Linked DNA regions of Homo sapiens. The protein of the gene in region 2 purifies or fractionates together with the protein of the main gene of each other region. This does not show direct contact. Each region holds a gene or a part of one and is shown on either strand. Other genes may lie near its edges.

Region 1 (3,826 bases), on a different chromosome or scaffold from region 2:
ATTCAGCCTCTGGATTTCCTGTAAACTAGATTAGATCTAAAGTTTCATAAGACTAGGACTAAACATTTCTGACAAAAGAAATTCACAGAGGTGCTGAGGAATCTAATGCATTAGATTCACTTTTCCTAATATAGAAAGGAATGGAAACAAATCCACAAATACCATAACCTCTGTCACAAGAAATTCTGCAATTATTGTTGCTCATGACATGCCATACATACATATCTATCTTGGATCAAACATTATTCAAGTTAAAATAAAGGGCATCTCTAGATTGGGATGCTAATAATAAATAAATAAAGGTTAAAGGTTTTCAGAGCCTGTAGTAGCTACAAAAAAAAAAAAAGAGAGAGAGAGATGCTACTTAAACCTCATTATTTTAACCTATGAACCTGGTATTTAACATGAAAGGCTTATCCTGAGAGCCTTCTGCTACTTTGGTTTTGTTTTTTAAGTTTCAAGTTATTAGTCAGGTTAATAAAGAATAACCATATATGTATAATTGTAAATACCTGAGATATCAGCAATTGGCAGCTAAAAATTTTAAATATAATTATTCTAATTGAAAAACTTTCACTATGTTTTAAATTGCTGGGAAACAACAAAGAGAACCTTACCTTTCCAACAAATGGAACCAAGTGATGCTCACACATGGAAAACATGTCTATGTCCTTCACAATCACCATCTCATCATGATCTTCATCAAATATAGCATCGTTTAGGACATCTGAAATCAGAGGCTTGCTTTAGTAACATGTCCAATTTTATAGAAAGGTAGAATTATGGATAAACATGAATAGACAGTCAACATAAACGAACGTTAATCCTCCCTAAAATATTAAGGGAATACAAATTAAAACTAGATATTTTTCCTTATCAAAGTAGCAAAGTCCTTTTCTGTAAGTAACATTTAAAAATCCTTGATACAGTGTTACATGAAAAATGCAGGATTATGAACATATTTGCAGTATGGAAGAGGAAGGAGAACGGAGGGAGGAAAGGAAAAATTATACCAAAATAAAACAGTGGCTATTTCTGGCAGTAGAAATGGGCCACTTTCACTTTCTTCCTTACATTTTCTTCTACTTTATATTTTGTCTATAATCAATATGTAGAAAACCATATCTGAGAAAAAGACTAATCCTTAGCCCTCTGACTTCTGAGGCCAGATCCAGACACCTGTAAACCTGACCTCTATTATCAATTCCCCAAGTAATTTTCTACATTTGTAAAGTGTTCTATATATTGTAGGCTAGCATCAGACTTATTCTAAACAGTTGCCTTCCTAAGGAAATAAATCCTACAGTTTGTGTGTATATGCCTCTCTGGGAAGGCTTTGGAAGATAAGCAGTGTCTTGTTTAAGCTGTGGACCCTGGCACTTCCAGCCAGACATACAATAGACATTAAAAAAAAAAAAAGCTTTATTTTTAAAAATTGCACTGACTTATCCTCAACTATGCTATGTGCAAAAGAAAAGATTAATCAGATGATGCCTGAGAGCACTCTGAGCTTCCTAACATTCGGTGACTGCAAGAACATCCTGTCCTGGATGCTGAAGAGGGATAGAGGGAAACAAGCCACATTCCCCACCAATCATAATATAGCCAAGCTATTGATAATAGGCAGGTACCCAAACAACATTGTAGATAAATGCCATATGACATGGAAACTTCTTCAGCTATATTGTCAAATGAGAAAAGAAGCTACAAAGAAATACAGTAGGATTTCATTTTCGGAAAATAAATATAGACATAGAAAAAAACTGTACTGATACCTAGACAGCTTGGCAGACTAGATATAATAAGACACGTAGCTGAGTAATTTCAAGGATTTGGGGGATATGCAATATACATAATAGAATTAGACAGAGAAGGGAAGGGATGTATTAGAGCTTTGCACCTGCAGCTCTTTCCCCTCAGAAAGGCAGGCGGCTGAGTGAGTCACAGGAAGATGGACAAATGTCCACCCACACTGCCTGACCTTCAGTGGCTCCACTGCTACTAGAATAGGGGGCTCACAGAGACCAAGTCATCACGTAAACCACAGTTATTACCCCAAGTCAGGCTATTCAGAGATACATTTGACTGTGTCATAGAAAAGTCATTAGTGTGGTCAAGAAAGGCGAACATGGCAGGGTTAGACACATACAGACAAACAGAGACACCCCTGGTAGAAGTGGCTGATAACATCCCAGGAGAAAAAGGCGCAGTGTCACTCACTGAGTATTTCTTCTACCACAGCACTTTTCTATGCTGAATATTCTGCCCTACCTTCAGTCTTATTTCTGAAAAGAAGACCAAAAATAGATCCTTAATGTTTCCAAAAGTTTCTTGGATTTCTCCCCAAGATTTTAATATGGTATGATTGCCACATATAGCTTACTAAAATCTTTAGTCACACAAGATATATTCCTGGAAGGAAAAACAAACCAAAAAAATGTCTTAAAGAAAAAACAAGAGAGAAGCATTAAATATAGGAAGCATTTGTTTTCTCTGGCAAAGAATGAGAGCGTCCCCATCCTAAGCTCTGACGACAACCATATGGCCCATGTTAAAGTCAGCCCTTCAACTCAGGCGAAGTGAAGAGCTGGCTCCAGGCTGGGTGCAGTGGCTCATGCCTGTAATCCCAGCACTCTGGGAGGCAGAGGTAGGTGGATCACCTGAGGTCAGGTGTTTGAGACCAGCCTGGCCAACATGGTCAAACCCTGTCTCTACTGAAAATACAAAAATAAGCCAGGCGTGGTGGTGCATGCCTGTAGTCCCAGCTACTCGGGGGGCTGAGACAGGAGAATTGCTTGAACCCGGGATGTGGAGGCTGCAGTGAGCCGAGATCATGTCACTGTACTCTAGCCTGGGCAAGAGAGAACAAGACTCCGTCTCAAAAAAAAAAAAAAAAAAAAAAAAAGATCTGGCTCCATCACTTACTAGTTATTAGGCCTTGGGCAAGGTACTCTGTACCTCAGTCTTCTCGGCTATAAAATGAGCATAAAGTGCCTGCTTCACAGGGTGTCATGAGGATTAAATGGGCACATGTGTTTAGAACTATGCAGGCGGAGCAAGTGCTAGTTATTGTTATTACTATTATTATTACAATTAAGATTGAGGGAGCTGCAAAGCTATGTATCTCCCATGCATATTGAGGTACATCAAAATTTAAAAAGCAATAATTTGCCTTAACAGAGTACAGAAAAGGAAAAATAGTAACTTGGTGGAGAAACCTGGCAGAGGCTACCTTAACCAAATGATTAAGGTTAACTTTGCCAGTAACAGGACATACTGACATCAGGTAGCTCCTGATAGGACACCATGAGAAGGGCACATCACCTCTGCGGTATTCTTCCCAAAAATCCATAACTGCAGCCTAATCATCAGACAAATCTAGGGACACAAAATATCTAAACAAGTACTCTTAGAAAGCATCAGGCCAGGCACAGTGGCTCACACCTGTAATCCCAGCACTTTGGTAGGGCAAGGTGGGAGGATCACTTGAGCCCAGCATTCTGAGACCAGCCTAGGTAACACTGCAATATCCCATCTCCACAAAAAATAAGAAAAAAATTAGCCAGGCACGGCAGCACACTCCTATAGTCATAGCTATTCAGGAGGCTAAGGCAGGAGGATCACTTAAGCCCAGCAGTTCAATGCTACAATGAGCTATGATTGCACCACTCCACTCCAAATAGAGTGACAGGGCAAGATCCTGTCTCTATTTTTTAAGTGTTTAAAAATTAAAAAAAAAAATTAAGGCATCAAAGTCATGAAAGACACAGAAAGACTAAGGAATTGTCAGATTGTAGGAGACTAGAGAAATGACAATGAAAATCTG
Region 2 (3,826 bases):
TGCTCCTCTGTGAAATGGGGGTGTTGGTCCTTGAGGTGGGAAACACTGGCGAATGAGGTGCCATCACTTTCTGCACTGGGTGGGTAAGATGCTCCCTGCCTCCTCCTCCCACTCCCTGCCCAGCTTCTTGGCCCAGGGAATTACTGGTTGTAAGGGTCTTAGAAGAGGTTAAGATTTAGTTGTGGCTGCAGCTTTGCAGAAAGCCCAGCATGCTCTGCAAGCAGGGATGGGAGGTATGAGGGTCACAGCCGAGTGACAGCCTGGGCAGGTGCTAGCAGGTGAGTGGCAGGTACCTGGCTGCCCAGGCTGAGGTGGCGCTGGGCTCTGCACCGAGCCTGGGGCAGGTCTGGAGGCCTGGACTGAGTTGGCCCGTCTCAAACCTGCAGAGGAAAGAAAAGAAAACAGCCATTATGTGTCACACACACACACACAGCAGGAAGGAGCTTGGGACCACTCAGCTGGTGTGGGGTGAGCCCCTTGGACTTTCACTGGAGGCAGCTCCTCACTCGCTCAGCTCTTTCTGACTCTTCTGCCTTCAGTGTGTTCTTTCTTCTCAATACTCAGACTCTGGTGAGTCACAGCAGCAGCAGTTGTTAAAAAGCACAGGTTCTACAATCCTCCTTCCACCTGTGTGACGTTGCTCAAGTGACCTGTCCTCTCTGGGCCTCAGTTTCCTCACCTGGTATATGGAGATAATCACTTAGCTGATAGAGTTGTGGGGAAGATACAATGACACAAACAGGCAATGCTCAGAACAGTGCTTGGCATGTACTAAAGACTCGACACATGACAGGTGGTGAGATTATTTTATTATTATTGAAAGAATGTGTCTCTATCTTCATATGGACTTGGCTTTGCCTTCCTGCTGTTTCCCATATGGCCTGTGTGACCCTGGGCTGGATACTCATCCTCTCTGAACCTTAGATGCCCCATGGAGGCAACAGTTCCACTTAACTCATAATGATAATGAATTCATACTTATTTAGTGCTTACCATGTGCCCTGGACTTTACATATAAGAACTTCTTTAATTTCTACTAATAACCTTATGGGGTGGGGCCTTATGATCTCCATTTTATAGATGGGGAAACTGAGGCACAGAGAAGTTACTGAGCTCATCTAATGTCTCTTGGCTGGTTACTGCAGAGCCAGGGTTTGAACGCTGGCAGTTGGCCTCTGGAATCTGTGCCAGAGACCCTTACATGCTGTTGTTTCCCAGAGAGGGACTGAATGGAATGATGTGTGCAGCAGTTTCTGGTACCCAGAAGGTGTGATGTTCTGGGAAGAAAGCCCTGCTTTTTCTTACCTCACTGGGCTAGATGCCATCTTTCCTGAATCCAGCACTTTTGGCTGGATGGATGCTTGAATACACATAACAAAAGGTGCTTTACCACCTCTGCCTGGGGGCTTACAAATCACCAAGTCTTGTCCCAGGTTCCCACATTAGCACTGCCATTTGTTTGTTCACTTGAGGCCCTGTTCATTTGTCCATTCATTCATTTGTTCATTCAACAAGCATCCAGTGGGTGTCTACCAAGTGCCAATCCCTGTGCTAAGATGAACAAAACACCATCTTATATCCTCCAGGAGTGCACAGCCCAGTCACAGGAAGGAGACAGACACTGAAATGATGAGTTTATGATGCAACAATACCCAACAGTCATTGAGTTCTTCAAATGCACCAGGCCTTGAACATCGCCTCATGGAAGCTTCACAACTCAATGCCATGCATGGTATTGTGCTCCCCATTTTGCAGTTGAGGTAGTGGGGGTTAAATATGCCCAAGGTCACATAACCAGGAAGCCCCGAAGGTAGGACTTCTGTCCAAATCTATCTCAGATCTTGTTGAATGTGTAAATCACACCTGAAGCCCATCAACAATAGAATAAGCCGCTCCAAGAGGTAGGGAGACAGAGAGTATGTGGGTGATCAAAAGCCTTTCAGAGACCTCTGAAGGGATTTCCACACTGTGTGTGAGGGAGGACTCTGAGATTCCAGGATTAAGCCCTGGAACAAGGGAGTTTTACTGGGAATTTGTTTTACTGAGCTGCTCTCAGTCCCTCAAGTGGAACTTGTAACAGACCAGCTAGGAGCATTGGCTCTGCACGTGAACTGCCTGGGTTAAACACTAGCCCTGCTATTACTTTTATGTGACCTTGAGATTGTTTTAGCCTCTCTTTGCTGCATCTATTATGTGAAGATGACTACAATAGTACCTATCCAAAAAGAGCTGTGGATTGGATCAGTATGACCCATGCAAAGGGTTTAATCACATACCCGGCAGAGAGTAGATGCTCAATAAGTTTAAGTTGTTATTATGATTATTAATTCAAATCTGTAAGTATTTGAGAGCCTATAATCAACTAAGAATCTTAGTATAGGCTGGAAAATGATGAGCAAGAGATAAAATTATGGTAGATGCTCCAAATATTTGGAAACATAATAAATTAATGGAGAGAGACATGTCCCTGGTATTACAAGGGAGAGAGATTCAGGCTATAATGCTTTAGACAGTGATAAGTCCTGCATTAGGGCTGCGTCTCACCACCCTGGGAGCTCAGAGAAGGTAGCAGCTAACCCAACTCAAGGTGGAGCAGGTGGATGCTAGAAGCTAGACAAGACGAATATTTACATTGACTCCTGAGGGACAGGGGATTCAAATCCAGTTCAGAAATGTCCTATGACTGTCTTTGTCCTCAGAAGACAAAATAATATAGACGTTAAAAGCAGGATTTGATATGTGGAAATTAACTCAAAATGAATCAAAGACCCAAATATAAGGGCTAAAACTATAAAACTCTTAGAAGAAAACATAAAGGAACTTCTTCATGATCTTAGATTAGGCAATGATTTCTTAGATATGACACTAAAAACATAGGCAAGAAAAGAAAAAGAAAAGAAACTGGGCTTCATCAAAATAAAAGCCTTCTTTGCATCAAATGACACTATAAAAGAGTGAAAAAACAACCCATGAAATAAGAGAAAAATGTGTAAATTATATATCTGATAAGACATTAATATCCAGAATATATAAAGAACTTCTATGACTCAACAACAAAAGACAAACTATCCAGTTTAAAATGTGTTCAAAGGACTTGAATAGCTGTGTCTCCAGGGAAAATATCCAAATGGCCAAAAGCACAAGAAAAGATGCTCAGTATCACTAATCATAGGGAAATGCAAGTCAAAACCACAAGGAGATGCCACTTCACACCACTGGGATGACTTATTAAAAACAAAAACAAAACCCAGAGAATAACAAATATTGGTGAGGACATGGAGAAATGAGAACCCTTTTGCATTGTTGGTGGGAATCTAAAAATGTCTCAGCCACCATGGAAAACGGAATGGTGGTTCCTCAAAAAATTAAACACAGAATTACCATATGATCCAGCAACTTCACTTATAGGTATATACTCAAAAGAACAGAGTGCAACAGATATTTGTATGTCAGGCGCACAATGACATCATTTACAACAGCTAAAAGGTTGAAATAAACCAAACTCCCACTGATGGGTGAATGGATAAACAGAATGTAGTATATATAATATATATATACACACACACCACTATATATATGTATATATACATGTATATACATATACACCACTATATATAGTATATGCACTGTGTGTATATACACTATATGTATATAATATATAACGTATACTGTATATTGTATATTTTATATTATATATACTGTTTCTATATATTCTATTGTATATATATGTACACTATATTATGTGTGTGTATATATATATACACTATATAAATACACAATAGAATATTGTGTATTCTTAATTTATGCCCAGTGTTCCATTATTGGA

Evidence for each region.
Region 1: the proteins of RPH3A (region 2) and GCH1 purify together in Homo sapiens (affinity purification with western blotting, with the first as the bait; one study listed by BioGRID). This does not show direct contact.

The regions. Positions count from the first base shown.
Region 1 is NC_000014.9:54,864,710-54,868,535, forward strand, and holds part of GCH1 (GTP cyclohydrolase 1), read right to left. Parts: intron 728-3,826; coding exon 618-727; intron 1-617. UniProt on the Homo sapiens protein: Positively regulates nitric oxide synthesis in umbilical vein endothelial cells (HUVECs). May be involved in dopamine synthesis. May modify pain sensitivity and persistence.
Region 2 is NC_000012.12:112,871,638-112,875,463, reverse strand, and holds part of RPH3A (rabphilin-3A), read right to left. Parts: intron 2,897-3,826; exon of another isoform or gene 1,306-2,896; intron 680-1,305; exon of another isoform or gene 507-679; intron 381-506; coding exon 294-380; intron 1-293. UniProt on the Homo sapiens protein: Plays an essential role in docking and fusion steps of regulated exocytosis.